Linked DNA regions of Homo sapiens: region 2 is linked to region 1. The links come from fine-mapping of genetic effects on gene expression. A gene starts in region 1. The other region holds a variant in brackets. All regions are shown on one strand. Distances are between the middles of the regions.

Region 1 (16,439 bases):
GAGGGCTCTGGCCTCATGACCTAATCACTTCTAAAAGGCCCCACTCCCTAATACTATCACATTGATGATTAGGTTTCAACATAAAAAATTTTTATGGGACACAAACATTCAGACCATAACAGTGGTCTACCCTGAACCCATTCCTCCCTGCATCCCACCTCCATGCAGCCCATGTGACTCAGGGTCCACTGATCCCATCCCCAGCTGCAGAATTAGTCTCTAAGGGTAGTTCCCAGACTAACAACATCAGCATCACTAGGGAATTTGTTAGAAATGAGGCCAGGCGAGGTGGCTCACGCCTGTAATCTCAGCACCTTGGGAGGCTGAGGCGGGCGGATCACCTGAGGTCAGGAGTTCAAGACCAGCCTGGCCAACGTGGTGAAACCCCATCTCTACTAAAAATACAAAATTAGCCAGGCCTGGTGGCGCATGCCTGTAATCCCGGCTTCTCAGGAGGCTGAGGCAGGAGAATTGCTTGAAGCTGGGAGGCAGAGGTTGCAGTAAGCCCAGATGGCGCAATTGCACTCCAGCCTGGGTGACAAAGGCGAAACTCCGTCTCAAAAAAAAAAAAAAGAAAAGAAAGAAATGTACAATCAGGTATGTAAATTCCCAAACATCACCCAAGACTACTGAATTAGAAACTCTGAGGCTGGGGCCGGCCCAGCAATCTGTATTTTAACAAGCCTTCCTGGTGATTCTGATGCAGCCTGACATTGGAGAACCACCGGTCTTCACGGATCATGGTAATCACATTCCCCTTGATAATTATTGGTTCCTGAACCCAGGCTTAAGCCAATCCATTTCTGGCCTTCCCCTGGCATCTGTAATTGGTCCAGAGGTGGTCATGTGACCTACTTTGGCCCAATCAGACTGAAAGGAAAGTTATTTACTCCACAGTTGGAGAGGTGTTTTCTTTTTTCCCCCTCCTGCCCCTTCTCTTATCCCTCTTGATGCACACAGCCAAGGTATTGTGTTGCCTTCTTTGCCACTGACTGCCAGCATATGACCATGAGGAAAACCAGGGCGAGGGCAGAGCTGAAAGGACCACAGCAAAAAGGAGCCAGAATCTTTGCACTATGCCTCTGGCCTTCCTGTTCCCTGAACAATATATTTCCTTATGATTTAAACCAGTGGATTTGTGGTTTCTGATCCTTATAGCCAAAAATGTTGTAACGACAGATGAAACTAAGGAAGTATGAAGCCAATGGGCATAACAAAAATATTTTAATATGATGACGGATGTAATTAAGTTAACAGGCATTTTTCCCCCAAATTCCAAAACTCTAGATCCAGGTAGCATAACTGTTACAACTTGAGAAAAGCAACTTAGTACAAATAAAATGGAGCATTACTTTATGCAGTGGGTCCTTGATTGGAGAATTGGTTAAAAACATACAAATGGGGGCTGGGCACGGTGGCTCATGCCTGTAATTCCGACGCTTTGGGTGGCCGAGGAAGGCGGATCACTTGAGGTCAGGAGTTTGAGACCAGCCTGGGCAGCATGGTGAAACCCCATCTCTACTAAAAATACAAAAATTAGCCAGGCGTAGTGGCATGCGCCTGTCGTCCCAGCTACTCGAGAGGCTGAGACAGGAGAATCACTTGAACCCAGAAGGCAGAGGTTGCAGTGAGCCAAGATCACGCCATTGCACTCCAACCTGGGCAAAAGAATGAGACTCCATCAAAAAAAAAAAAAAGAAAGAAAGAGAGAGAAGGAAAGAAAGAAAGAAAGAAGAAAGAAAGAAAAGAAAGAAAGAGAAAGAAAGAAAGGAGAAAGAAAGAGGAAAGAGAAAAAGAAAGAAGGCTAAAAGAAGAAAAAAAAAGGAAGGGGACTTAAAATGAGGCATATTCTTAGGTGAAATGAAAAAAACAATAGGGTAATATACAAATGAGCCTGGAGCATATTATGGTGCCAGAAAGTAAGAAAGTGCTCAAGAAAGAATGGAGACACAGGAGCCAGCCTGAAAGAGCTTGCAATGACTGAAGCTGGGACACTGACAATAAAGTCAATAATAACAACATTGGATTCTAACCCAAAGACTAAACTCCTTGTCCATGAATTCATATTGACATAAATAAATAATTGAATAAATAAATGGGAGAGAATTCTTCCCTATAGAAGGATTCCAATGAATTCACATAGAAGGAATGAGGGAAATAGAAAATCGCCTTTAGAACACCACAGGAATAATTGTTGCATGCATGATCTACCGATGGATGCTAAAATTAGTGGGAGAAGGTTGGAGGAGAAACAGGATATTTGCATAGTCTCGAAGTATCTTCCTCTAGGGGAAAACGGATAGAGAAGGCAAACTAGGGTGCTATAGGGATGTGTCTGTCCAGAATTTTCTCCTGAAATGTGCCCTGTGGTTTCAGAGACAGGAAAAGCAAGAGATTTGGTTTAAAATCGCACGGCCAGGAGTTCATGGACTCCTCCAAGAAACAAAAAGGGCCATTGCTGTTCAAATTTGGACTGAGCTAGATGTGACCTGGCCCTGAGAGTTGTCTCTTCTCACTACTAAAGAGCCACATGTGCTTGCCCTCCTCCCTCAACTCCCTACTCCAACCCCCAAGCCCTGGGCTCACTCACTGCCAGGCAGGGTGGTGGTGAGTTTCACAAACTAATCCCAGCGTGCAGATTGACTGTGCTGCCTTTAGTTTCCTCCGGATTTTCGGGTTATTTGTGTTGGCACAGGGCCACCAGCTCTTCCTAACTTGGAACACATTCTCAAAAAGGGCTGGTCCCACCTTCCTCATCTTGGTTGAGGCCAAGGTCTGGTTTCATTTTTCATTAAACTGCCATTTGTAACTTTCATTGAAGAGAATGACAACATGTCCAACTGTCTTCATTCAGTGTTTTCCCAAGAGAGGGCCTTTTTGCCTCCCACGAGACAGTGTGTGATTTATTTATCTCATCCGTTGTGCAATAGGTTCACCACCATTGCAACTAACACAATGTTCCAGAAAAAAAATGCTGTATCACACAGTGACTTCACTCAAGTTGGCAGTGATTGGTTTCTCACCTAGATCCACCAAAGCCTATACCATGGAGGTAGAATTGCATCACCAGAGACTTCTCTGGTTTGATTGTGAGGGGGGACTATAGGGCTGGGACTGCATCTTGCCCATCTTCATCTGCCCCGGGTCTGGCATGTAGTAGGTGTGGTAGTCATCGGTGCTGTTCACCAAGTATTTCCAACTCTTCACTTCGCAGGCCCTTCTAGGGCTGCATTTCCTGGCCCTCTGTGTCTGGGTGCAACTATTTGCACAGTTCCAGCTGATGAGTTGGGTGCAGAAGCGTTGTACACCACTTCTAGGCTACAGCATTTAAATACTTGTGGTCCAGAGCTCTCTTTTCCCTCTAGCTCGGCAACCAGCAATGTTTGAGAAGGTGGCTACTCAGTCATCCTGGATCCCTGATTGACTGCAATAAGTAAACACCCCCTTCTAACCTATGATGCACATGTAGTGTGAGTAAAAAAATTAATGTTTTTGGCCAAGCGCGGTGGCTCATGCCTGTAATCCCTGCACTTTGGGAGGTCGAGGTAGGCAGATCACTTGAGGTCAGGAGTTTGAGACCAGACTGGCCAACAGGGTGAAACCCGGTCTCTACTAAAAATACAAAAATTAGCCAGGTGTGGTGGTACACACCTGTAATCCCAGCTACTCGGGAGGCTGAGGCAGGAGAATTGTTGAACCCAGAGCCAGAAGTTACAGAGTACGTCACTGCACTCCAGCCTGGGTGACAGAGTGAGACTCCATCTCAAACAAAACAAAACAAAAACAAACAAACAAAACACCTTTGTTTATACTAACCACTGAGATTTTGAGGGTTGTTTGTTACTGCAGAATAACCTAGGCTATCCTCACTGATACCATATGCATAAAATACATGTTTGTTGAATGAATGAATGAATGACTTAAGCCAGAAGAGACTGCTGAGCAGTGTTGCTCTAGAATTCCTTTCTATAAAGAAGAGATTCAGACATGGTAATCTGATTACACGTGTGTGGGAAGTGAGGACCATGTTGGTGAGGGGACTTTTCTTGTTTTGTTTGCATAGTACACTATTTTTATTACATGTCTTTTATTTGGGCTATGAGAGTGCTGATGGGGATTATGGGGGGCCTAAAGCCCCCCAAACCAAACCTTGGCATTATCACTGAAGTTTCAATTGACCTTGCCACCTCCTATGTCTTTTACAAGTGGGGAAACTGAGACCCAGACTGTCTAAGTGATGATACCCATTAGTTAGTGGCAACACTGGTAAACACCAAGCCCCTCGTTTCCTGATTGTCTACCTGGTGCTTTTGCTATGACACCATTCCACCTTTCACACCCAGGTGTTAAGAGAGCAGGGGCTTGAGAGTTGTGCTCTGACTTATTCCAGTCCTGGCTCTGCCACTTACTAGCTGTGGACCTTAGGAAAAGCACTTAACCTATCTGTGCCTTGGTTTCCTCAGCTGTACAGTCCTCTGTGGGTTGCCACGAGGATTTTGTGAAATCAAGTATAAAGTATGTAAAGATCTAGCAGTATTAGTCGATTGTTACTGTTATCCTAAACCCTCATCCCACAGTCTTTTTTTTTTTTTTTTTTTTTTTGAGTCAGTGTCTCACTCTGTCACCCAGGCTGGAGTACAGTGGTGCAATCCCGGCTCACTGCAGCCTTGACCTCCTGGGTTCAAGCGATCCTCCCACTTCAGCCTTCTGAGTAGCTGAGACTACAGGCAACGCCACCATGCCCAGCTAATTTTTGTACTTTTCTGGGTATAGATGAGGTTTCACCATGTTGGCCAGGCTGGTCTCGAACTCCTGGGCTCAAGCAATCCTCTTGCCTCAGCCTCCCAAAGTGCTGGGATTACAGGCATGAGCCACCACGCCCAGCCCAGCTCACCGTCTTGATTTGCACCTGAGCCCCATGTTCTCTTCATGCTCTGTTTCCCTTGGGAAAGAATGAATCTGTTTTAGACCATCATGTGCTCTATTTGTAGACGATTTGGCCACAGGTCAATTACATTTGAAGTTCTAAGGAGAGCCGTGCCCTGAGCACTGGTGAGCTGTCCTCCTCTGCCACCTCCCTTTGCCAAGAACCTTCATTAAGGGACCTACCAGTGGGAAGGGGGCAAGGTGACAAGAACTTTTGCCTTCTCTATTCGGTCTCTGCCATATTTGCTGCCTGACTGATGCCTGCTGATCAAGCTCCATCACTGGTTCAAAGACCCTGTGGGACTACAGCCAAAGCCACCCACTCTTCAGTTGCTGGGACATCAGCCCACAGGCTTTGGATAAATATTCACCTGCAAATCCTGAGCAGCCATAGCCTTCCTTCATATCTCCAGATAGTACCCGTGTAGAAGGCATGTGACTAGGGCTCCCTCTCTCAGAAAAGGCAGAAAAACCTGTGGCTGGAGGGCCGGGGTTCCCTCCTTAATCCCAACCTCTTTCCTCTTCCATAGGCCCTGATGTCAGAGTTATGTGAATCTGAGAGTGTGTGTCAAGAAGAATGAAACTTTGGCTGAAAGTGCAGCAAAATATGAATTTTTAAGAACTGTCTTATTTATGTTTTTTAGACATATTTCTTTTCTTTTTCTTTCTTTTCTTTTTTTTTTTTAGAGACAGGATCTCACTCTGTCACCCAGGCTGGAGTACAGGGTCATGATCATAGCTCATGGTAGCCTCCAACTTCTGGGCTCAAGCCATCCTCCCACCTCAGCCTCCTCAGTAGCTGGGATTACAGGGGCAAGCCACTGTGTCTGGCTACCAGTTTTTGATAAAGCTAAACTTACCATATGACATAGCACTCTTACTTCTAGGTATTTACCTAAGTGAAATAGAGGTTTATATTCACACAAAAAGCTGTATGTGAATATTTATATTGCCTTTATTCACAATAATCAATAGCTGGGGCTACAGGCATGCACCGCCATGCCTGGCTGATTTTTTTTTATTTTTTATTTTTACAGAAATGGAGTCTCACTATGTTGCTCAGGCTGGTCTTGAACTCCTGGGCTCAAGCAATCCCCTCACCCCAGCCTCCCAAAGAGCCTTAAAGTCCTTTTTTAAACAGCAAGTTTGTTTAAAGGAAAAGCATACTTACTCTGGTATCACGCTTAACTTTAGAAATTCAAGCAACTGTTAATATGAGATAGACATATATTAACTTGTTATTGACGTGAGACATACATACAGAAAAGTGCTCATAGATCCGTTTAAACTGTACCCAGATCAAGAAGCCAGACATTACCTGTAAGCCCTTCTTATTCTCCAGTGACCGCTATCCTAACAGCATAGGTTAGTTTTGCCTGTTTTATCCTTTACAGAAACAAAATCATATAGTGTCTGTGTTTTTGGGCCTGACTTCTTCACTCAACATTGTTTCAGAGGTTCATCTATATTAAGCATAGCAGTGGTTCATGCAGTCTCATTGCTGTCTGGGATTCCGCTTTGTGACTATACCATCACAATGTCTGCGATCCATTCTGTTGGTGGGCATCTGGGTCATTTCCAATCTGGGCTATTGCAAATATACTGGTATGATATTCTAGTTCATATCCTTTGGTAAACATACACACTGATTGAGGTTGTGTGTACATCCAGAAGGGGAATTGCTGGTCAGAGGGTAGTTGTACTCTCAGCTTTAATAGATTCTGCCAAAGAGTTTTCCAAAATGCTTGTAAAAATTTACACTCCCACTAGCGGTGTATGAAAATTCTTTAGGTATGAGGTCTATGTAAAGCAAAAATAAAGAAGTTAATATGCAAAAGTTATATGTAAGTTAAAAATACGTGTTAAGTTCATTCAAACGGAACCAATTTAACCCGTTGGAGTAATACCGGGTGTGTTTATTTAATACACCATTTTCCCCTTCATCAAAACTTTTAATTTATGTAACCTGGATGAGCTTCCTGACTCTACTCTCCCTTAATCCAATCAGTTAAAAGTCTCTCTGAAAAGACTGTCCATTCATTTATTCAGTTAGAATGTTGTGAGTGTTAATAAACTGGTGTTTGCAAAACAAATTCAACCCCTCCTGCAAAGCAGAATATACATCTCGCCCATCATGTGTCTAAAATGGCAGAGTCAGCCAGGATATGCCTTAAAGATCTGCACTTGATAACCATCGCGTCTCCAGGGCTGTGAATGCAATTCAGAATCCAGAATTTTGTTCTAGTTGTAAAGGAAAAATGGTATATTCTCCCGCAGGTTTAACGAAAGAGAACGATGCCTTTAAAACGACAAAGCATTTTGCAAACACAGGTGTTATTCGACTATAAAGGCGGCGGGGGAGGGGGGCAGTAAAATGAGCCGGAAAGGGAATTCAGAGCGCTTATTTTTTCCCTGGTCTCTACAACTAATTCGTATTGTAGAACTGAGCCTCCATTTTCCCATCTGTAAAATAGGGTACTTTGACAAATTGCTTAGGGGATCTGTAAGTCCTATCCAGATCTAGTTTTTATTCTATGACCATGCAGGAGGAGAGATGCTGAGACAGAAAGGTAGAGGGGACCAGGGACAACTCACTTTATATACCCCCTCCACCTCGACCCCCAGCAGGCAGAGCGCCCGAGATCCCGGTTTCTGGGAACCCGGTGTATTTCCAGTCCTTCACCAGGAAAACCATCGAACTGAATCCTTTACTGGGACATTTCTCGTTTACTGCTCTCTCCAAATTCCCCTCTCAAGTGGTCTGACATCTGATCTCCGGATTCAGGAATATCTTGGTAGAAGTGCGCCCTCGGGGCTCCCACCCATTACAGCGTGCGACACTGAAACGGGCATATGGGTACCGGGGCGAGCCCTAAAGGTGAGCCGCTGAGTCTGGAGGTTGGGGTCCGTTGGGGTCCCCAAGGAGGAGCTCGCTGGGCTGGACGCCGGGCATCTGAGGGTCCCGCAGTGCCTGGAGCCCAGGAGCGCTGCGGGGCCCCCGGCTGCGGTGGGGTGGGCGGCCGAGCTCGCCGCCCCCGCTTCTCCCCGGCCCCTGCCCCTGCCCCGAGCTCCCAGCCCGGCTTCGGCCGGCCGCGCTGCCCGCTCCCCCTCCTCCCTCCGCGCCCCGCCCGCTCCCCACCTCCGCGCCCAGCCTCGCCGCCGCCGAGCGCCCGACGCGCCACGCCGCGCTGGGCAGCTGGAGAGCTGGCGGCGGAGCGGGCCGGGAGCGGCGGGGGCGGCGCCGAGGCCGCGGGCGGGGGGAGGAGGGCCGCAGCCCCGGAGAGGGGAAAAGGCGGGCCGGACGGCGCCAGCAGCCAGCCCCGAGGACGCGAGCGGCAGGTAAGCGCTCGGCGCCAGGACGGGTCTGGCCCCTTGGGGTCCTGAGACCCAGACTCGCACAGCCGGCCACGGGCGCTGGAGGCTCGGGCGCAGCGTCTAGCCCCGGAGGGCGGCGGGCCAGCGGGCCGGCGGGACGAACGCGCCTTCCGCCCGGCTGCTGTTCCTAGCCGGGGCCCGGGAACATCCTGAAAGGCGGAGGCGTAGCTCCCAGCCCCGGGGCTAGTTCCCCGACTGGGGGAGCCCGCGCGCCGTGGGAAAGGAGGCTCCAAGGGGAGACGCGCGTCTCCAAAACCTTCGGACGGAGCCGTACTTTCCCCAACCCGCGGGAAACTGAGCCACGAGCCTGACTCGCGCGGGTGGTGTGCTAGACGCCAACTCCCGGGAGCCCGGCTCCGCGCGCCTGGTCGGGCTGCGGCGGTGCTGGCGGAGCGCGAACGCGCCCGGGCCCCGGACGGCTTGGGGCGGCACCACTCGGCGCGGCCCCGAACAGGTGGCCCCGGGCACCGAGGGACGGAGCGGCGGCCCGGAGCCAGGGGGTGAGCACGCCGGGGAAGGAGGGGGCTCGTGGTCTCGGAGTGAGCGCATTTCGGCAGGGACTCGAGTTTCGAGGCTCCGAAACCCGATAAAAAGTGAGGGGGAAGAAGAGAGCTGACCTCCCGAGAGCCAGACGAAGCAGGGGACAGGTTTTCCGTGGCTGCTTCGACAGTGACAGTCTGTACTGTGCACGATAATCCCCCAGGGATCCCGTTAAAATGAGATTCTGATCCCGCAGGTCTGGGGTGGGGGCCGAGCGTCTGCATTTCTAAGAAGCTCCCAGTGGCTGCTGATGCTGTTCCATGGACCACACTTTATCCGGCAGGCCCTACGGAAGTACTTTTTGTCCAGCAGGCTGAAAACCTTAGGAAAAGTGGGAGATTGGGAGACGAGGTCCTAAGACTTTACAGTATGTATAGCTTTAATACCTCTTTGCCACCTCTACCCCCAAACGCACGCAAAAACACTTGCTACTATAAAGGCCAAGGGAAACTTTCCCTTCGCCCCCTGAAGGTTCGCTTGAAAAATTAACTGACAAAGACAGATTGATTGGAGAAAAGGCATGCAAATGTATTAATGTGTCCACGGGGAGAGAACAATAGAGTGATTACCCCCAGCCCCCCAATGGGGTACAGAAGCATGTAGATTATCTTGAGGTTACAGAAAGAAAGGGGTCTCAACGCATGGCCCCAAACAGGTTATGGTGGTAAAAGAGGTTGTGAGAGGGGGAGAAGAGGAGGCTTGGCCAGCAAAAATGGTCTGGAGATGTCAATGAAACCTCACAGGTGGCAGCCCTCAGAGAGAATAAACAGTAAATGTTTCTTTCAGACCTTTAAAGGGGTCAGATCCTCAGTTAATTTCTCTTAGATCTGGACAAGGGAGGACCTCGATAAAGCCTGGCTACATCCGTGCAGATTCTCTACAAATGCAAATCTTCCGCACCAAGGACAGCTTTGCATTAGCTCTACTGGCTGGCTTTCTAAATACGTCAATATTTAGAAATATGTCAACTATTTCAAAATATGTCAAAGAAATATATTTTGGGGTAAAATGATTTGATTTCCTTCACTACTCATTTAATAGCGAAATATTTTACTTTTCTTACCAACTTTCTAGCCAAATACATGATCTGATAGCAGGGCTGGCTTCATGGACATGCATCCTGCACTTGGTTTAATGCTGAAATTCTTAATTTTTGAACAAGGGGCCTCTCCTTTTCATTTTGCACTGGGTCCCACAAATTATGTAGCTGATCCTAATAGTCACCATACGTGGAAAGAGAACCCATTTTTTGATCAGGGTTTGAGATGGTGGGTGATGGAGAGTAGAGGTTTATTAAGGGAAGACTAGCTAGATGTTGCAGTTATCTCCAATCTTTCTCAACTCCTCTTTGGCTATCTGAAGAGATAAGTCTAAGAGCATACCCAGGCATGCATGGTGTGACAAAATTTATTACTTTATTAATATCAACAGTTAACAGTTTATTAGGAGCTTAATTATTGATAGACAATACAATTAAGTTTGATATTGAAATAATTTTGTAAGTTTATTGACAAGTTGTGTGTTATTTTCAAAGGATTGGGGAGTCTCTATTTAGCATCTCATAAAATTTTGCTTAGTTAAGATCTAAGATGAGCTGGACATTGCTTGGTTTGGCAGCTTTCACAGCTCAAATGCAAAGCTGGAAAACAAAAAGTGGCCAAATTTTGTAGCTTTTCAGGAGTATTCTTTTACAGGGCCTCAGCGTGATGCCAGCCCGGATCGGATTCCCTTCTGCTTTTATCACTCCCACATCTCTGCAAGGTGACTTTCATTAAAAGGGGGATAGAGCATATTTAGCTACTGAAAAACACTGAAGAAAGGCAGGGCCAGCATCAGTATTTTGTCTGTGAAGAAATCTTGCCCAAAAAACACAGATTCCAGGTGTGTGTATTTTTCTAGAAAAAAGAAATGTTGGAAATACAGAAAAGAAAAAGATTGTACTCTAACTATGGATATGATTTTGTTCAGCAGAGGGAGAAAAAGTCAGATAAGTGGCATTTCATTGGCGGGTTTGGCAGGGAAAGGAAAGCTGCTGTGTTTTTGGTACCATGAACAGCCTTCCAGAAATGGCAAAGTGAGTTTGCTCAGGTGCAAGGAAGAGCCAGCAAAGAAGCTGATTTTCCATGGCTGATGTGATCATTGTGGGGACTCAGAGCAGGACATCACGACATATGTTCTTGGTGCTTTGACGGCTCAGATGAAACTGAAAAACACATTTTTCCACTTTTCTGCCTGAGCGTGCCAAGTCGCTTTCAAATACACGATCCAAACTGGGAAGAGTGCTATTAAATTAACAAAAGGAGGGAGAGGGAGGTGTTTCTGTGATGTCCATGATTCAAAAGATAGAAAGGAGGGATTCTGACTTTAGTTAAAACCTGGGAGCTAGTTTTTATGCTTCACTGAGAAAGGTTTTCCTGACCACAAGATAGGAAGAAAAAAGTTCTTTTAAAATGTTTATGGTTTCAAAAATGTGTAGGTATTTAATCCGCATGGAATTTATTTTGGGATTGTGGTGTGAGGTGGTGGGTGATGGAACTTAAACGGGCTAACATTTGGGGAAAGCTATCATAAAATAAATTCCCGCAATCAAATAAATTGTGGTAAACACTGTCCCATTTTACAAATCGATTTAATGGATTCTTCAGTCTACTCCATGTTTTTCAAATTGAAGTGTAACTTATTACAGTAAAATTCACTCTTTTCAGTGTACAGTTCTAGAAGTTTTGACAAATGTATATAGTCATGTAACCACCACCGTATCAGGATGTAGAAGAATTCTACCACTCCAAGGAATTCCCTGTTGACTCTTTGTAGTCAGCCTCCCCCAACTCTCAGCCCCTGGCAACCACTGATTTGTTTGCTGTCCCTATAATTTTGTTCTTTTCAGAATGTCCTGTAAAAGAACTTATGTATTCTGTAGGCTTCTGAGCCTGGCTTCTTTCACCTAGCATAATGCATTTGAGGTTTATCTATGTTGCACGGATCAATACTTCATTCCTTACTGTTGCTGAGCAGTATCCCAAAGTTTGTTTATCCACTCACCAACTATTGATGATTATGAATAAAGCCAATATAAATATTCACATATGGCTTTTTGGATGAATGTAAACTTTTATTTCACTCAGGTAAACACGTAGAAGATGGCTATGTTGTATGTGAGCTTTATCAAAAACTGATAACCGGGCACAGTGGCTCGTGCCTGGATTCCCAGCTACTCAGGAGGCTAAGGTGGGAGGATCGCTTGAGGCCAGGGGTTCAAGAACAGCCTGGGCAACATAGCAACATTCCCGTCCCTACAAAAAAAATTAAAAAATTATCTGGGCATGGTAGCATGCACCTGTAGTCCTTGCTACTCAGGAGGCTGAGGCAGACGGATCTCTTCAGCCGGGGATTTTGAGGCTGCAGTGAGCTATGATTGGGCCACTGCACTCCAGCCTAGGCAATAAGAGTGAAACTCTGTCTCAAAAAAGAAAAACAAAAACAAAAAGAAATTGTATCCTTTTTTCCCACTTCATTTTCTATGGTAGTGAGTAGGAAGGCTATTTAATTGTTTTTCTGTACATTTATCTTACATTCAAGCCATTTTACTGAACTTTTCTTAGTTCTAATAGTTTTTCAGTTGATTTTCTTGGATTTTCAAAGTAGACAGTCAAATTGTCTGCAAATGGCAATAATATAGGGAATTTTCCCTCCAATATTTTTACCTCATTTTATTTTCTTGCTTTAGTGGCTAGGCTTCCCTGTAGGATAATGTTGAGTAGTAGTTGCTACTATTTTACCATTAACTATTGTGCTTGCCATAGGGTTCTGGTGGCTACCTTAATTATCCTCAGGATGTTTCTTTTCCATTGTTAGCTTGCTAAAAGTCTAAAAGTTTAATTTTAAAATTTCTTGTTCTGCTTGGAATTCTTTTTTTTTTTTTCCCATTGAAAGCCTAAGAGGTTTAGGATCAGTTAGTTTGCTTCTTGACTTTGGAAGTTCATATTTTGATCTCACTGGAGGAGAAGTTAGTGTAGCATTAAGTCAATTCATTTTATTTTATTTTATTTAGATAGAGTCCTGCTCTGTCAACTAGGCTGGAGAGCAGTGGTAGTAATCTCGGCTCACTGCAACCTCCGCCTCCTGGGTTCAGGTGATTCTCCTGCCTCAGCCTCCTGAGTAGCTGGGACTATGGCGGCGCACCACCACACCTGGCTAATTTTTGTATTTTTAGTAGAGACGGGGTTTTGCCATATTGGCCAGGCTGGTCTCGAACTCCTGACCTCAAGTGATCTACCCGGCTCGGCCTCCCAAAGTGCTGAGATTACAGGCATGAGCCACTGCGCCTGGTAATTCATTTTATTTAGATGATGAAGAACCTACCTTTGGAGGTTTTTTTAATAATGTTCTTATTTGGGGGAATGCTGGGTGTACTGAGGAAGAAAGAGAATCAAGAGACAGTTTATAACCTACTCATGTATAAACAAGGTAGCTTTTTCTAGTGTTCAAACTTTTTTTGCCCACCATTCACAATAAGTACATTTTATATTTCTTTTTTTCTTTCTTTTTTTTAATTTTTTAATTTTTTTTTTTGAGACAGAGTCTCACTCTGTTGCCCAGGCTGGAGTGCAGTGGCGCAATCTCAGCTCACTGCAGCCTCTGCCTCCCAGGTTCAAGCAGTTCTCTGCCTCAGCCTCCCGAGTAGCTGAGATTGCAGGTGCCCGCCACCACACCCGACTAATTTTTTTTTTGTATTTTTAGTAGAGACGAGGTTTCACCATCTTGGCCAGGTTGGTCTTGAACTCCTGACCTCATGATCCACCCGCCTCGGTCTCCCAAAGTGTTGGGATTACGGGCGTGAGCCATCACGCCTGGCCACATTTTATATTTCAGCTCAGTCCAAACATACTTGTATATAATGGAAACAAACTCTCACAAAGTCTTTGTCTTTCTCCTGTGTGCAATGTATTGATATTTTCAATTATCTTTCATCTGTTCTATTTCATTTTAAACTGATGATCATGATTTTCCAAATTGATTTGACTACCCTTTCATTTGATTTTTTGACCCACAGTTTGAAAAACATTGTTTTGTAAAACTGCTCATTTAGTTTCTAAGTCCCCAAACTGCTGGATTATGTCCAGAACCGATTCATTTTATATCAGATCCTGCTATGATGCAAAGTAAGTTCATTTATTATGCTCTGAGATCAGTGTAACTACCTATTTCTCTCTTGAATTACTGTGTAGCCTCTAAACCAGTCTTTCAGTGTCTACTTTTGACCCCACAGAATAGCCAATACATGCAGTCTTATAAGTCCATGACTCAAACTCCTCTAATGACCTCTTCCCACACTTTTTTTTTTTTTTTTTTTTTTTTTGAGACGGAATCTCTGTTGCTGAGGCTGGACTGCAGTGGCGCGATCTTGGCTCACTGTAACCTCTGTCTCATGGGTTCAAGAAATTCTCCTGCCTCAGCCTCCCTAGTAGCTGGGACTACAGTTTCACACCTCCATGCCTGGCTAATTTTTATATTTTTAGTAGAGTCGGGGTTTTACCATATTGATCAGGCTTTTCTCGAGCTCTTGACCTCAGTTGATCCACCCACCTCGGCCTCCTATAGTGCTGGGATTACAGGCATGAGCCACTGCGCCCGGACTTTTTTTTTCTCTTGAGACAGGATCTCGTTCTTTTGCCCAGACTGGAGTGCAGTGTCATGATCATGGCTCACTGCAGCCTCAACCTTCGGTGCTTAAGCGATCCTCCCACCTCAACCTCCTGAGCAGCTGGAGGCACTACAGGCTTGCCCCACCATGCCTGGCTAATTTTTAAAAAGTTTTTGTAGTGACGGGGTCTCCCTGTGTTGCCCAGGCTGGTCTCGAACTCCTGGATTCAAGCAGGCTTCCTGCCTCAGTCTCCCAAAGTGCTGAGACTACAAGCATGAGCCACTGCACCCGGCCTGCACTTTTTTTTTTCTTAGACGAGATGGGGTCTCAGTCTGTAGCCCAGGCTGGAGTGCAGTGGTGTGATCATAGCTCACTGCAGCCGCAAACTCCTGGGCTCATGCAACCACACCCAGCTAATTTTTGTATTTTTAGTAGGGATAGGGTTTCACCGTGTTGGCCAGTCTGTTGAACTCCTAGCCTCAAGTGATCCTCCTGCCTCGGCCTCCCAAAGTGCTGGGATTATAGGCGGGAGCCACCGCGCCGCCTCCTACCACACTTACAATCAATCCCTAGGGCCTCACTGGTACCTCCTTTACTCCCTATTCTCAACTTCTCCAAACACAGCCTCCTCCGTGCTTATGTTCCTCACCCAAGCCAAGCGTTTGCTGTGCTACCTGCCCAGAACACCATTTCACCAGATAGTTTCTTTGTTTCATCTGAGTCTTCTCTAACCCTCATTCTAAAACCGTACTCCCCACTTACCACAGGAAGGGTCCATTCCCTTATCCCACTTTTGTTTTCTTTATATCACTGTTACCTGCAATTATGTTATTTAGTTATTTGTTTACTGATGCTGCGTCTTCTTTTCCTTCCTGGAATATAAGTTCCAGGAAGGCAGGGACTTTGTGTAGTTTGCTCATCATTGTGTTGTCAGGACTTAGAACAGTGGGACGTAGTAGGTGCTTTATCCACGTGTCAAATGACCGAATGAATGAGCCTAGAATATAGATAAAATCTGACACTTGTCCTAAGAGAAGTATAATGTGCCCTGCCTTTCTGTTCCAATGTTAGTGTGGAAATTTCTTTAGGTTAAGCGTGGAGTATTTTAATGTAAGCAGTTCATTAACCAATACACACTCACCTGGTATCCACTATATTTCTGACACTCTCGTAATAATAATGATAGCTAATATTTACTGAGCAGTTACTACCCTTATTGCTTTACATCTATTAACTCATTTAATCCTCCCAACCTCTTGAAGCAGGTACAATTCTCATCATTTTACAGATGAGGAAACTGAGGTACAGAGAAGTTAAGTTACTTGTCTAAGGTCATACAGAAGGTAAGCAGTAGGTCCGGGGTTTGAATACAGACCATCTGATTTCAGAGCCTGTGTTCTTCATCACAAGCTCCTAGCTAGAGCAAGGAGTGCGCACAATTCCTGACCTTTGTAAGCCTGTCACGTTTATGGCTTAGCATAGTGGTTCTCAACTGGAGGTGATTTTTGCCTCCCAGGGGACATTTGACAATGTCAAGAGACATTTTTAGTTGTCATGACTGGCAGGGTTTGGAGGTGCTACTGGCGCCTAGTGGGGAGAGGTCGAGGATGCTGGTAAACATCCTACAGTGCACAGCACAGCACCCTCACCCCAACAAACAGTGATCCGGCCCAAGCATTAATAGTGCCAAGGTTGAGAAACCCTGCCGTGGCACAGTGGTTCTGAAAGCCCGCTGCCCACTGGAATCACTGGGGGAGCTTGATAAATCAATACCGATGTCCAGGTCTTGTTCCTGACCTTAATAAACCTCAAATGGACCTTCAACATGGCCTGCAGTCCTACCATGCTTGCCTAGTGGGTTTGTTTTTCCATTCTCCAAAACAGTTGTTTGACACCTTTTATTTCCTCTGCCCCTCCTAGATCAGTTGCTGATTCTGGCTCATTCAACAGGAGC
Region 2 (16,439 bases), 74 kb before region 1:
AGAGGGAGCTGGAGAGAGCCCAAAATGGTTTAAATGCAAAATGAAGAGATTTAGAATGTCAAGTTTTAAGATCAGGACCAGCAGCAAATACAACTCCAAACCCTTGCCCCCAGATCTTGTAGCAGGCAACATTATATGGCCATAGCCAACAGGATGCAGGACCAAAATATATAAGAAGGGCAGAGTGAGAGTGGCCTCTTCATGCTCACTGTTATCTAGTGGGAGTGGCCTCACTCTCCAGACCAGCCTGTGGGAAGACAGTGGATATGGCTTCCTTTCCCTTCATTGTAACTATTGGAAATGTATTCTGTAACCTGGGCTGACTACATAGTTTTCAGGGCCTGGTGCAAAATGAGAATGGAGGACCCCTTGTCCATAAAGCAGGATTAGATGGGAGGCTGAGGTGGGAGGATTGCTGGAGGCCAGGAGTTAGAGGTTGCAGTGGGCTGTGATCGTGCTGCTCCACTCCAGCCTGGGCAACATAATAAGACTCTGTCTCTTAATGCTGCTAAATGTACTCAATATGTACTCAAATATCAAATGTTTCCTTTCCTCTATGCGCACTCTCTCTCGCCCTCTCTCTCTGTCATGGTGTATTTAGTCCTGACTTAGTGTCATACTAAATCCTCACAGGCACTTGGAGTCCCATCCTGTGATGTGGTCCACATGGTCCACTGCCTGTCAAGTTCCTTGTCCCACCAGCCACTAGATCAGTGTGTATGCGGTGCCCTGGCCCCAGGGGAAGTCAATACCCCCTTCCCACGGCCCACTGCCCCCACCCATGGCAGGTGACCAACCCTCAATAAATTGCAACCTCAGTATCTGGATTGGGGTGGATTAGAGGCTCGCACCTACCAAGTGGCCCACAGAGCCCACCATGGTGCTGCCAGCCCAGAGCAGGGACAACTGTGGCTATGCCTGACCAGAGGCTCCAGGTGGCACCCGGACATTTCTGGCACCTATGCCTGGTACAACATGGGTCTCCAACTCTTTCCCCCAGCTCCCTACCCCACCCTACCCACAGCACTCTACCCCCTCCCCACAATGCTACCTGGGCACTGCCCCAGGTAGATGGTGGCAGAGGTCAGTCACAGGGCAGAGAGGAGGCAGCCAGGTAGGGCTGGGGCTCCAATGGGTGGAGGAGAAGGGGTGGCCAAAAACCCATTGGGAGAGGTGGGGAGCAGCAGAAGGTGACCCCAAGGTGGGCCAGGCTCTAAGCTCCCCCCAGCTCTTGCTCCATTGTCCCATCCCATCGGGCTTCACTTACAAAACACAAATGCGAAGAAAAAATTATCAAGAATTTCAGTACAATAACAATTGAGCATTAAACTGTAGACAGGGCTTTTCTGAGCACAAGGCCCTGTGTCATCGCACTGGTTAGACAGCTGTGAAGCTGCCCATGCTGTAGTCTCCAAAAATGTTCCCAAAGAAAGCTTTCCAGGGATGACACTAACCAGGAGAACTTTAAAAGTCTGCACACTCCAAATTCTTACTTTCAGCCCCAAACTCACCCCCTATTAACCTGGCAAGATTTAAGAGAAGAAATCATCCACTATCAAACTCTTAGATGTTTTGAGTACTCTTCACACAGGATTTTCTAGACCCTAATTAACCCATTTTCATAGGCCTTTCAAATGGGGAGCTTTGGGTTTTGATTGCATTTGTTCACAGAAAGTTTTGACAACCCGAAGCTTCCAGTTCATCCCTTGGTTTCTCAGTCCAGCATTGTGGGGCAGGGGTGGCACCAGAACCCTAGAGGCTGCTGCTTTGACTTCTGCCTATATCCACTAAATTTCCTGTCAACCAACTGGGTCTCAGCCAGAGCCCCTTGCAAGTTCTCTAACACCACCTCCTTGTCATCAATTAAAGGCATTTTCAAAGCACTGATGGAATTCTGTGATAAGTAAATTATTAAATAAATAAGCCCAACGTTGTTTACCAACTGGCTGACTCTTCTGTCTGCACTTGGCAGTCCATTGCCCCAGCTTTCAAAGCCAATGAACTTGACAAAAAGAGAATCTGTATCATTTGTGAAATCCAACATCACATTGCATAAAGTGCATTTGATATACTGTTAGGACAGAAATATCATTTCCTGCCTTGTAAGTCATTTGAGTTTAGCAAAATTATACTTATTTTCCTGATATTTGTTTAATTAATATCAATGTGGTAATGAGACGCTTGATACTATTTTGCAAAATTACCACAGGAGTTGTTTCACTAAAACACTCCCCTTGTATACAGGGTGTCTTCCTTCGTTTATATCATGGTTCAGATGGGAAGTGGTCATAAAGCCTCTGGAGGCTGTGGGCACATATGATGTTTTTCTGTCATTGTGTGTGTGACCCAGATGCAGCCACCTGGAAAGCCTGACTCCCAGTCCAGAGCTTTTTGTGACATTACAGAGGTGAGCCATGAAGTCGGGCAGCTCCTTATCATCCACCGCTTCATCCATCTGCCCATCCATCTGTCCATCTGTCCATCCTAGATGCACAGGCAAGAAGGTGAAGATGTTGGCTGACATTTCTTCAGGGTCTAAAACCTAGAAGGAGGAGGCACAACCACCCTTGCTGCACCCTGGAAAGGAGCTGGTCCTGGAACTGACGTTTTCTTCTGCAAGCCCCTCTCCCCCAGTAAAAACCATTTCTGATCATGTTATGTCCCCTTTTCTGGGACATAACTTCCTATATCAAGTCCTCAGAACACTGTATTCCATATTTAATGGCTCGTTCATTAAAATGAGCTTTGTGGTTGGACAGGTTGGGTACATGTTCCTTTCTAGAACTTTGGAGTTTGTCTTGCTTCCTCCTGGTTAGATTCAGGTTGTGTATTCTTTGCTGGAAAACTGCGCTGATAGCGTGCCTTTCCTAAGGTATCACATCTGGAGGTATGTGATGTCCATCTGCTCCTCATGGGGGAAATTAATTGAGATCACCCAAAGTGTTGTCCAATTTCTCCATTATAATGTCACTGGATCCCTCCCCCTTGCATCTAATATACACTCTGTAAGGAGACACTTTGAATTCATGCAAATATCCTGCTTTTCATCAAAATGTCCTAGCTTTACAATTCATTGATGATTCTTGCTCAAGCCAATTTTTACCATGAAGTTTGCAAAATGATGATTTTTCTGGCCGGGCATGGTGGCTCATGCCTGTAATCCCAACACTTTGTGGTGGTGCACGCCTGTAATCCCAGTGACTTGTGAGGCTGAGAGGGTAGGAGGAATCACCTGAGCTCAGGAAGTTGAGGCTGCAGTGAGTCGTGATCATGCCACTGCACTCCACTTTGGGTGACAGAGTGAGACACCCTGCCTCAAACAAACAAACAAAAAAGGATGATTTTTCTGATTCTAACACCCTGTCCACCTTGACCTTCTGGCCCTTGACATTCAACTATAAGTAGAAGAAGCTTTTCCCCTCTGTCCTATTTCTGCACCTATACGTGTCTGTCTGTCTATCTGACCAGTATGAACTCATAAATTGTCCCAGATTTAACCAGCAGTAGCCCCTTCAAGCTGGTTCCTGAATCTTCGTGACAGGCCACCATCATGCTTTTGAGCACTCCTTTACTTTCCGACATAACAGAATACTCCAGGATTATCTTGTACCTACACTATCCCAGCCCTGGACTCAGCTATTTTTCCTAGGAGCTCTGGCTCCTTTAATGGCGAATGGTATTAGATACCAAGATCTCTATGCTATTTGTATTCATTTTATCGGTGCTTCTTGGCCCTTTCACTGGAAAGAGTTAAGAGATATATGCACGTATATATACATATACATGCCTACACATGGACACATATATATAGTGTGTATGTAAACATGCATATAGACATATATGTGCACATTTCAGAAATCATGAGTTTGCACTGATACCTCCAATTTCAGCTTATCTCCACAGGATTATTTCCTGCCTCCCCCATTTCATATTTTTCTGTCCCTTCGTCCATAATGAGAATGCTGGCTCTCAATGACATCAACACGTTTACTCATTTGTTCAGCCCTGTAATGGCTCTAAAATAGTTTCAGCATTATTTCACTCATCCTACAACAGACAGCTCTACAAAATGACTTTGGAATTTGTTGTGATTCTCCCCTCATCTCTCACTCTACCCTGTCCGACACCGAGAGTTTATAGTCAAATATTGTATTCTTAAATTACTTGGATTAGTGCTCTCTTTGCTTTCTTCCTTTCCCTCCTGTATAATTATGATGTTCCTTTGATATACAGTGTAATTATGATGTTCATTTGATGTTCATTGATACACAGTGGTTCGTTTCCATTTGCTTTCATTTTAGTTTTTTTCCTTTCTCATTCTTATGGGTTTAATTTAACTTTTCAAATATGTAGAATATTAGCTTGCTTTCAAAAGCTAAAACTACACCAAAAGCTACATTCAGAGAAGTGTCAATCCCTCCTGTATCCCTTCCACTCACTTCCTGCTTGCAGGATACCAAATGCAAAGTTTCCTAGTTTATCCCTCTTGTGTTTCTTTCTGTAAAGATAAGCAGAAATATGTATGTTTTCTTTCTTACACAAAACTGGCAACCTATATATGCTTTTTCATGTTCTTTTTTTCAATACTAGCTCCCAGAAATCACTCTGTATCAGTTCATAGAGATCTTTTGCATCTTTTATCAGAGCTGCATGGTATTCCATTGTGTACGTGCCACTCTCCTATGCTTGGGTGTTAATACTGTTTCCAATATTTTGCAATTACAAATAAAGCTGCAATAAATAACAGATTAGTAGACTTTTTAAAAAATTCACGTCAAGCTCCTTAGAGAGAGAAAAAGGAGATAAAGACAACTGATAAGACCAGCAGATATAAAAGCCAACTTCCTCAGGCTAGCTTGACCCACCACATTGCACAAACAGACCTTTCCAAGAGGTAAACAAGGTCCTAACTGTGGTCTTGTCTTTCTCATGGTGATGGGGGATGCTTTTTACAGTTTTATAGAACTAGAAGAAGGAACACCTGGGATCTCATTTTTCTCATTCCTGGATGCCTGCCTGCCCAGCATCAGTCAAGTTGCCCCTTATCTTTTCTTGAAGTGAGTACAATGGCACATAGCAAACCCAAAGAAGAGGGCGGTGCAAGGCTGCTCATACATGTGTGAGCAGATTGGACAAGCTTGATTGGCATTTATTATACATTGGGTACACCTAGGAAGTAGGAGAATAAAAGGCACCATACAGTCCTGTTGAGAAAATAAATTCCACTAGGATATCCTTCTTGGGGACTGGAGTAGATTATATTCCTTTTTGCCAAACATTCCAGTGACCCTCCTCATGGGAGGGTTGGACTTCCTTGCCCTGTGGAACTCAGGAGTGGCCGTGTACCTTGCTTTAGTCAATACATGTAGACAGAAATAATGTGTATCATTTTGGAGCAGAAGCTTCAGGATCTGCTCCAGGTTCACCATGTCTCTTATTTTCCTTTGCCGGGAGACCAATAACTTCCTAGACAGAGGCTGTTTCAGAGGCTTCACAAAAGAAGGAAAAGGAATGTGCATGAAAATATGCTGAACATCAGTCAGCAGGAAAATGCAAATTCAAACCACAGTGAGATACCACTTCACACCCACTAGAATGGCTAACATGTAAAAAGACTGACTAGTTAGCAAGGATGTGAAGCAATGGAAACTTTTATATGCTGCTGGTGGGGTTGTAAAATGGTACAACCACTTTGGAGAACAGTTGGTCAATTTCTTTGTCTTATAAAAATAAACATACACCAACCACGTGACCAGCCATTCCACTCTTAGGTATCTACCCAAAAGAAATGAAAACTTATGTCTACAAGACTGGTGGAGGAGTGTTTGTAGCAGTTTTATTCATAGTAGCCCAAACTGAAAACAACCCAAATGTCCATCAACAAGTGAATGGATAAAGAAACTGCGATATATTTGTACTGTGGACTACCCTTCAGCAAGAAAAAGGAATAGACAACTGGTACATACAATAGCATAAATCATTCTCAAAAAAAACCTCGAGTCTAAAAAGCCAAACACTAGAATATATACTACATCATTTCATTTCCACGAAGTTCTAGAACAGGTAAAACTGATCTATAGTGATAGAAATCAGATCAGTGGTGGCCCCAGGCCAGGAGAGGAACTGACTGGAAAGGGGGACTCAGGAACTTTGTGTGATGATGGAAATACTTTATATCTTGATTGGTGTGGTGGTTACACTGGTGTATACAGTTGTCAAAATTCATAAGATCTGTTCATTATATTATGTGTAAAAACAAGAAATGAAAACAAACACTAGAGTCTCTTCCTCCAGTCTGGGTCCCAAAGTGAAGATGATGTACAGCAAAACCAGTGAGGAATAAACCTTTGTCTATGTAAGCCACTGAGATTGTGGGGTCATTTGTGATTGCAGCATAACCTAGCCCATCCTGATTAATACAGGGACTCGTCCCATTGGCACATTCAAGGATCTGAGAAGTTTTTCAGTAAAGAAACCTGCTTGGGCTGGGCGTGGTGGCTCACACCTGTAATCCCAGCACTTTGGGAGGCCGAGGCAGATGAATCACTTGAGGTCAGGAGTTCGAGACCAGCCTGGCCAACATGGTGAAACCTCGTCTCTACCAAAAATACAAAAATTAGCCAGGTGTGGTGGCACACGCCTATAGTCCCAGCTACTTGGGAGGCTGAGGCAGGAGAATTGCTTGAACCCAGGAGGCAGTTTGCCGTGAGCCGAGATCATGCCACTGCACTCCAGCCTGGACAACAAAGCAAGACTCTGTCCTGAAAGAAAAAAAAAAAAGAAACCTGCTTGACATTATATATATATCCGGTATTTCTCAAAGTATTTTGACAATCTAATTATTCTTTATATAGCGCACCTTTAATATATTCTGAAAGTAGCTTCATAAAACACAATCTGTTTAATTTTTAAAGAGATTGGGGAGCACATCCTTTTTTAGAATAATTAAAATATTCCCAAATGTTAGCAGTTTGGGGTAATGATAGCACATTAACATTTATGCCCAAATTATGAGGACCCCCTAGCCCATCGCACCTCACCCCCACAAAAAAGAAAAAACAAAAACAAACAAACAAAAAAAAAAAACAACAACAACCCTCCTCTAATGTCCCTGGGACTTCGCAGGGCAAGTGTCTTATAGGTATTCAAGAAAGGGCTTGCTCACATTCTTCTGAGCTGTTTTGCTGTCAGGGTCCCTAGCTCCTGACAGTTGCTGGGTAGGTACCTGTTTCTTGCTATTCTCTATTAGTGGCCACCCCAAGGCCCAGAGTGCCAGTGCTATGTGGTGGTCTGTGGCAGAGTAGGGATGGGGGGCATGACCCCTCTCGGGCCCAGCATGTCAGAGAGTCTTTGATGAGTGGAGTTCCTCAGCCTTAGGTCCTGACTTCTATCTTTCTAGAGTCTCAGAACCTTCATCAGATCAGACATGGGGTAGACACCAGGCCTAGAATTAATCTCCCCTCTCCCTTCTCTCCAGGTATTTTTCCTCCTCTTTTCACCTTCAAGTGAAAAGCACCTGAAATCAACTCAGGCAAGACCAGGGCTGCAGGAACGCCCAGCTGGGTGGTTCTGATGACAGACTGCCTCCTGGTTCGGAACTCAGCTGGGACACCGTCCTTCATGAGGACTTTTCATGCCTCCTTTTAAGCTCCTCAGTGAATCCAATCTGCAGTAGTGGTGGAAGTTGGGAGCCTCAATTCTGCCGTCATAAGGAATTGAAAAGGCTCTGAAAGTTGGTGATTGTTCCCATGTCCAGCTCAAGGGCACCGAGCCGCTGGGCTGAGGTGGAGACCAATGTCCCCGGGGCAGTAGCCCAGAAGGAAGCCAAGGCCTTTTTGCAATAGTTGAGTATCCAGACCCATCTACAGGGAAATCTTTGAAAATATTCCTGCCACTGAAGTCATGTTGGGCTTCTTAGTTTCAGTCCCACTAAGCCCTTGTGGGAACTTCAGGTGTGTAGTGGTGAGAGAGGGGAGACAAACAGGAGAGGTGATGGAGCGAACAAGGTGAGAATAAATCCCATTCTGGAAATAGCTTGAGATTGAAAATTCAACTGGAAATCATACCTGGGAGCAAATTCAGAAAATGAATGATGAATGAATCCAGTAATTAAATTCAACTAGTTCCTTTTAATATGATTTTCCCCCTGAGAATAATCAGCAGAACTCTAAGAAAACTCTTTGCCAAAGTTATCTCATTTAATTACTGTAATTCTGTGTCACATACAGAGGAAGAGATGGAAGATAGAGGTTTGACTTCCTGGTTTCTGTGTATCTGGTAATATTGTCTGGTTCATGGGCTGGGGCGAGGTGGGGAGCCATTGTTTTATCTAATACAGAGGTAAATTTTGTGGCTGTTTGATTATAATTTCTGATCTGAATTTGAAAGCTCTTCCCTACCTATGTGATTAACTTGAAAGAACTTGGCTGAAGGCATCCGGGTTAATAAAAGTCTTTTTGGTAGGTGTGTTTCTCAAGCAAATAAAAGTTAGCAATTTCCCTGGCAAAGCTTAGCCTTTGTGAGTTATTGATGAAATTTTTCCCTCTTTCTCTCTCTCAAAGGCAGAAGTGGGGTAAATGGAGCATTGTGGATTGGGCTGTAGGAGGGTGGGTTATTGGTTGATTCCACAGGTGCAGGAGTAGTGAGAATTCTTAGTTGAAGCAGCTCCCACCCGCTTGCATTGAATCTTTCCTAAGAGGGGCTGCCCTTCAGCAGAATGTCACGTAGAGTTGCTTCTCACCCCAGATCTCAATTTCCTCATTCTTGAAGATTTCTACAAAAGAAACCTATGCCCTGCTTTTGCTTGCTCTCCACACCCCTGTAAGTGGGTGCTCCAGAAGACACGGAGGCCAGCAAGCCAGGACGCTTTGTTCTGATGGCTCCTAGCAACGGCACCTTCACACAACTCTCATGAGTCACTCTGAGCCCCTGTCTGGGGGCGAGCACGAGCACACTATACTGTCCCGAACGCCTGAGCGAGCCCATCATCTTCTCTTACAATTATTAACTCAGGTGGTC[G/A]TTTTGATAAGAAGTGGAAAAGTAGGGAAAACACTAGAGATGTCGCAAACTGCCTGCAGTGACAATTTTCCTTAAATATAGACGTTTATTTGAAGATATTTACCTAACTCTTCTAACCAAGATAACATCTGATCGCAGATAGCATAGTACCCTTTCAAACTTCTTAGTGTTATACACCATACACTCAGAACAGTGTATCTAACCTCAATCTACAGCTTGCTGAATTTTCAAAACCGAAACACACGCCTGCTGCTAGTAGCCAGATGATGAAACAGGGCTTTACCCACACCCCAGAAGCCCCCATCCCAATTGCTCCTTCCAGTCACAACTCTGACCCCCAAGGGTAGCCAATAGCTTGGTCCCTAAAGGCAGAGGTTCTTTCTTGCCTGTCTTTGGACTACATATAAATAGAATCATCCAGCATGTACTTTTTTCCTGTTTTCTTTCCGTCTGCATTACGTTCATGAGTTTTACCCATCTTGTCTCAGGTAGTTGGGAGACTGTTCATTCTCATTGCTGCATAGTGGTATAAATACACCAGAATTTATTTACTCATCTTCCTGTTGATGGACATTCAGGTAGTTTCCAGTGCAGTCTTGTTATGAGTGGTGCTGCTATAAACATTCAAGTTCATGTCTTTTCACCAACATGAGTGTACGTTTTTGGTGGGTATACGGTCAGGAATTACATGTTCAGCTCTAGGAGCTACTGCCAAACAATTTGTTTGTAGTTGTATCAATTTACACTTCCACCAGCAGTGATGAGAGTACCAGTGGCTCCACACTTTCTCCTAAAATGTACCTAAACAGGTGCCCCACCTGCTGGGGGATGTGGTATATGCTAGTGGCCAAAAGCCCAGACTCTAGAACTAGATGATCTGGGTTCCATTTCTAGCTTTATTATTTAATAAGTGTATGACCCTGAGGACCTTACTTAACTTCTCTGTGCCGCAGTTTTTTCACCTATAAAATGGCAATCATCATCATCTTCTTCATAGGGTTAAGAATTAAATGAACAAATGCATACAGATCATTAAGAATGGTGCCTAGCAGGGTACAGTGGCTCACACCTGTAATCCTAGCACTTTGAGAGGCAGAGGGCAAGCAGATCACTTGAGCCCAGGAATTCAAGACCAGCCTGGGCAACATGGCGAAACCGTGTCTCTACAAAATATTAAAAAATTAGCCAGGCGTGGTTGTGGGCACCTGTAGTCCCATCTACTCAGGAGGCTGAAGTGGGAGGATTGCTTGAGCCCTGGAGGTCAAGGCTGCACTGAGCCATGATCGTGCCACTGCACTGCAGCCTGGGCAACAGAGTGACCCCATCTCAAACAAAAACAAAAAACCGTACTTGGCACATAGAAAGTACTCCATAAATGTTAGATGTTATTTTTATCCAAATGTATTGAAATTAACAACCACCAGTGCAGTAAAGGAGCTGTACATCCTACTGTAAAAGAAATGGAACGTTTCCCACACAAACCGAGGAGGCAATCAGGTGAACGCCACAAGGGGTCTCTATACAAGAGGCGTGACAGCATGCAGTCTCTGACTATGTAAATCAAAGCGAATTCTTGAGAACTTGAATGTGCAAATTAAACCAGAATGTCAGCGCCCTGCAATATTTATGGCGAAGTGTGAACCCTGTATAGAAGCAATATAAATGACAGTCTTTGATTTTATTTATTTATTTATTTATTTGCTAGTGAGGCCAGTGACATATATTAAGTTAACTTACTATATATAGGACCTCAGTGAAGTGAATTCCTTACAAATCCTATAGACTTGTATAGTTTATCCTTTGGCAAACACTGTTTCAGGAATTGACATACATATGGATTTCAGTAAATAAATGTGGATTTCATCAACAGTCAATGCAAGAAAGGGAAGTGGTAGAGAAGAAATGATGATAGGAGAGTCATTGGGTAGGAAGTTCAAAGGCACGCAAAGCTGAGATGCACCCCATCACCAGGTGTAGGTCATTGAGCGGAATTGGTTTTTAATGGTAAACGTCAGCAAATACATTGCTTGTCTCTTTCAGGTTAGTGGGACTCAACCCTGACTGCATAGTAGAATCACCCGGGGAGCTTTCGCAACTGCAGGGGCCCAGCCTCAAATCCAGAAATTCTGATTCAGTTTGCTTGGAAGCAGGGCCCAGCGATTTCTTTTTCTTAAGTTCTCCAGGTGATTTGAGTGTGCAGTCAGAGTTGAAAAATGCTGCTCCTGGCTGGGCCTGGTGGCTCACACCTGTAATCCCAGCACTTTGGGAGGCCGAGGTGGGCAGATCATGAGGTCGGGAGTTTGAGACCAGCCTGACCAACATGGTGAAACCCCCGTCTCTGCTAAAAATACAAAAATTCGCCGGGCGTGGTGGTGCCCACCTGTAATCCCAGCTACTCAGGAGGCTGAGGCAGGGGAATTGCTTGAACCCAGGAGGTGGACAGGTTGCAGTGAGCCGATCATGCCACTGTACTCCAGCCTGGGCAACAGAGTGAGACTCCATCTCAAAAAAAAAAAAAATGCTGCTTCTTCTGAGAGGCAATAGTGACAATGCTGCTGGTGTCTTCTGAGTGGTTATCTCTTCCAGTGGGGCAGCAGAGTGAGATCCTGAGTAGTTTCTATGGCATCTGCCTGCTTTGGTCAACTAAAGCTCCAAACACTGGCTCAACTGGTTTTTATCTGGTGGATTTTCTTTCATACCTGGCACCTCCGAATATTCCAGTCTATTTTAAGCCTTCCTGTGGTTTTTAAAGCATGATACTTTCTGAGCCAAAGACTTACCATTTCAAATCGCATGGACCGTGATTCAATCTGGAACAGAACTAAACAGGACAAGGTGTTGCCCCAATTAGTAATTGGACATTTTCTTATTGATGAAAGAAGATACATGAAAGTGCATTGAACTGTAAAGCCCTTCATAGAAGAGCAAAATTGTTTTTTATGTTGTTGCTGCTACTATGTGTGGTGTAAACTTCAGGAAGGTAGGAGAGGGCCGTGAAATAATCACCATGTTTGTACATGAGCACATGTGAATTGGAATTGCTGGTTCAGCCACTGAGTGGTTATCACTGGGGCCTTGCCTTAGCTGAGCTTATGTTTTATGAAAGGTGGAAGGATCAGTACACTTCAGAAGGAAATTTTGTAGATTACAGGAGCTAATGTAAATGGTGCTTGGCAAGGAATGAGCCATTGGTAAATAGCAATTACCCTTCTGTATCAGTCAGCTAATGCTATGTTGCTGCTGCATAACACACAATCCCCTAAATCTTAGTGGCTTACCAAAATGATGTTTATTTTTCTCACTCATGTGTCTGTGGATTGGCTGTAGCTGCTGTGTTTAATGCTGCCTGCAAGTCAGACTGAGTATATGTGTCTCATTCTGGAGCCAGCAGATCTCTGGGGCATGCTCTACTCATGGTAGATGACAGGGCTGCAAGAAGGCCCTGGCAGAAATGCCTAATGCCTTTTAACAATCCAGCCCAGGGCCAGGTGTGGTGGCTCAGGCCTGTAATCCTAGCACTTTGGGAGGCTGAGGTGGAAGGACCACTTGAGGTCAGGAATTCAAGACCAGCCTGGGCAACATAGTGAGACTCCATCTCTACAAAAACAATTAAAAAAAATATATAAGCCAGACATGGTGGTGCATGCCTGTAGTCCCAGCTACTCCGAAGGCTAAGACAGGAGGATGGCTTGAGCCCAGGAGTTTGAAGCTGCAGTGAGCTATGATCGTGCCACTGCATTCCAGCCTGGGTAACAGAGTAAGACCTTGCCTCCAAACAAACAAACAAATGCAATTTAACCCAGAACTTATTCATTATCATTTCCTCCCACTTTCAGAGCAAGTCTTATGGCCAAGCTTAAAGTCAATGGGACAGAGAAGGAAGCATGCTCTCCCAGTGAAGCCCTGGCACAGTGAAGGGAATAAGTGGAAGAACTGTGAGTATATAATGTCTCCTGCCACATTGCCCTTCCTTTCTCCAGGGTGGCAACAGAGCAGAAAAGAGGGGTAAGTATGGAGGAAGGAAATAGCCGGCTCCCACAGGAGCTCCTCCATCTGCCTCATTTGTGAGAGCTTGTTTGGCCTCATTTGTAGAGGTGCTCTACCACTCACACAGAGGAAGAAAAGCCATTCTCTCTTGTAGCCACCTCCAAGTGTTTGTGATGAGGGACAAATGACTCAGGGGCCATCCAGAACTCTAGAATTCACCAGAAGCCTCCAATCTCGCTTGCATGAATACATCGAAACTGATTTTGAAAGAGAAACAGAAACAATACCTGGTGAAGTCTGGCAAAACAGACTATACTATATACTGATTGTCAAAATAACTGGGTCTTCAACCCCTTCCTTTTAGCCTTTTGACGTGTTTTTAATATGTAGATATCGGCCAGGTGCAGTGGCTCATGCCTGTAATCCCAGCACTTTGGGAGGCCGAGGCGGGCAGATCACGAGGTCAAGAGATCGAGACCATCCTGGCCAACATGGCGAAACCCTGTCTCTACTAAAAATACAAAAATTAGTTGGGCCTGGTGGTGCGCGCCTGTAGTCCCAGCTACTCGGGAAGCTGAGGCAGGAGAATTGCTTCAACTTGGGAGGCGGAGGTTGCAGTGAGCCAAGATCACTCCACTGCACTCCAGCCTGGCAACAGAGTGAGACTCTGTCTCAAAAAATATATATGTAGATGTCATTTATGAGTATTTATTCTAAATGACAATTAGTACTCTGATATATAATGGTGGTAGGCTAAGAACCCTTTATTTGAATCCTAACACTTTATTTGAATTTCAAAACTGGGTGAGTTAGGTGACCCCATCTCTACTATCTAACCAGAGAGTTCTGGCCAAACGCATAATGTGCTTAGTAAAGCATTACCAGACATGTCCTTGCATATTCGCTAATTGCGAGAGGAGTTTGGTGACAAGATCAAAGGTGTTTAGCAAAATACAACTGTCATAATTGAGGATAATTCTGAATGTATTTCAAGATATCAAACCATTTTCAAGTCAACTCCCTGAGGATCTTTGTTGAAGGATGTCAGGCTGGGTTGCATTGTTGCAGATCTTAAGTCGAGCTACAGCATCAGGCTTCTCCAGGAATGGTTTCTGAACTACCAACGTCAGAATCATCTAGGGCTGTTGGTTAAAAATGCAGATTCCCAGGCAAACTTCAGATGTATCAAATTGGAATCTCTGTGTGCAGGACCCAAGAATCTCCATTTCTTTATGCACACCAAGGCTTTTGTATCAAATCTATGTAGACAGAGGCCCCACACATCTTTGATTCCAAGTATATTGGTTGTGGAAAAGGTGAGGTTTTTATAATGCCAGATTAATCAGTCTCACCAATAAACACAGCCAAAGGATTTTTCCCATTATTAGTAGTATTTAACTTTTTTAAAAAAATTAATTTTGTTAACATGTCCAACTAGGGTGCTGCTGTAACAAGACTTTTGTGCTTTTTTAAAAAAAAACACTACTTGAACATTAGAAACCATATTTTTTCATTCAGACCTCAACTTTGATATTAAAATAATCATTTTGGCTGGGCACGGTGGCTCACACCTGTAATCCCAGCACTTTGGGAAGCTGAGGCCGGTGGATCACTTGAGGTCAGGAGTTCAAGACCAGCCTGGCCAACATAGTGAAACCCTGTCTCTACTAAAAATACAAAAAATTAGCTAGGCGTGGTGGCACATGCCTGTAATCCCAGTTACTCGGGAGGCTGAGGCAGGAGAATCGCTTGAACCCAGGAGGTTATAGTCCCAACTACTTGGGAAGCTGAGGCAGGAGAATTGCTTGAACCCAGGAGGTGGAGGTTGCAGTGAGCCGAGATCGTGCCACTGCACTCTAGCCTGGGTGACAGAACAAGACTCCATCTCTAAATAAATAAATAAATAAATAAACAAACAAACAATTTTCCTCCCATTTTCTCAAACACCAATGGCCTACAAAACATATATAAACATTGAATGAAAGAAAAGCAAGTTGAGACACAATTATTGTGAGGAATCGGGGAGGGTTTTATTCATGTATTTAATTTAGTACATTCTTTTTCTGACAGGAAAAAATTTTTCCTGCCTTTTTAAGGTATTTTAGGTGCATGAACTCGCAGTAATGAAAGTGGTGTAACCATCTAAGTTGGAAATATCTTTCCTTTTCCACTTAGTAAGTGCATTTTAATATTTTTTATCCATATGCATGGAATAATAAAAGGCATTAACTGCTTCAATAAATAAATTAAATGGAAGGATGGTTCTGAGAATTGAGAGAAATAGGGAAAACAATAAGAACAAGAGGACAGACTCCCCTCCCTTTTCCACCTTCTTTCACCTCCTGTTTATAACATTTGAGGTTCAAAGCCTTTATCTTAATGACTTGCCACTTTCAACTGTGTGGAAAATGAATTTGAATCATTTAGAAGATTCTAAGAGTTCCTTACCTTAATCACTGAACACAAGATGCAAAAAGGTGTGGAAACATCTGTTGCCCAGATTAGGAATGTTAACCAGGATGTTGCAAAAAAAAAAAAAATCTATGCCGTTATCGGGCCTTTAATCCAATTAGCAAATACAAGTCATTCTAAAAGACTCTGGCAACCGTTGCTCAGAGAGGGAGAAAACCTACAAAAGATATGCAAAAAGGAGAATTTGAGCATCATGAAATTTAAGAACTAGCAGAACTACAGTAGGAAATTATAAGAAGCATGAATTTAAGGCTTTTGTGTGTTTGGGCTCAGTTTTTTCATTCTATTTTATAAGTAAAGATTTTTTTTCGAATGGCAAAAAAAAAAAAAAATATGTTTTCTCCAAAGTGATTTCAAGGGAAAAGATTTCCCTATAAAAACAGCAAGATCTTCCCTGACTTCCCTTCCCTGATACTGATCTTCCCTGTATACGTGGGATTTTTTGGTGTGGGACATTCAAGTTTTCAAAGGATTTCTCATCACTTACATTTCACTCAAGCCCTCATGGGTTGGGAGGATGGGTAGAAACAATTACATCTGCCATCCTCTGATGATGGGCAGGTACAGCTACCTTATCACAGGGCTGAAGTGTCAACAGTTGTGATACGCTCATCAAGCATTTGTTTCTATTTTGAGCTTTTCTAACCTGTTTGCCTCAACATATTCTCCAGCATTTTTCAGAGAGTTGTTGGGGGCAGGAGAGCCCTGGGATTTAAGCTATAACATTTCTTGATTCATAAACAGATTTGTGGAGTCTTGATAAGTAAGCAACAATGAGGAAGGGGCCCCAGGTGGAGGAGGGCCTCAGGTGAGAAAGAACAATGAATAATTTTCCTGAGACATGGCTAATCACAAACAACCTGTGGGTACAACCTTGTTCCACATGTAGCCCCCTCCAGCAAGACCCTATAAAACTTCCCTCCAGCCCCTGCCTCTTTGCAGATAGCCCCTTCTCTGCTGTG

Which allele goes with the higher level. Alleles are on the strand shown, and positions count from the first base shown. SD is a standard deviation of normalised expression in the study named.
In carriers of allele G in region 2, the expression in pancreatic islets of the gene that starts at base 8,239 in region 1 tends to be lower than with A alone (large effect, 0.75 SD a copy in PISA).

The links. PIP is the estimated chance that this variant, and not a neighbour inherited with it, causes the effect. A credible set is the group of variants that fine-mapping cannot tell apart.
Region 2: its variant is the best candidate, but not a certain one, in a credible set for the expression of ADGRG2 in pancreatic islets (PISA, PIP 0.83).

The regions. Positions count from the first base shown.
Region 1 is chrX:19,114,268-19,130,706 of GRCh38, reverse strand. It overlaps ADGRG2 (adhesion G protein-coupled receptor G2), which reads left to right and starts at 8,239. Exons shown (of 29, transcript NM_001079858.3): 1 at 8,239-8,265.
Region 2 is chrX:19,187,879-19,204,317 of GRCh38, reverse strand. No RefSeq gene overlaps it. Among named protein-coding and RNA genes, the nearest start is that of ADGRG2, 74 kb to the right of the region's middle. RefSeq lists an enhancer at 9,508-9,607. The variant G/A (reference allele first, on the strand shown) is at 9,019.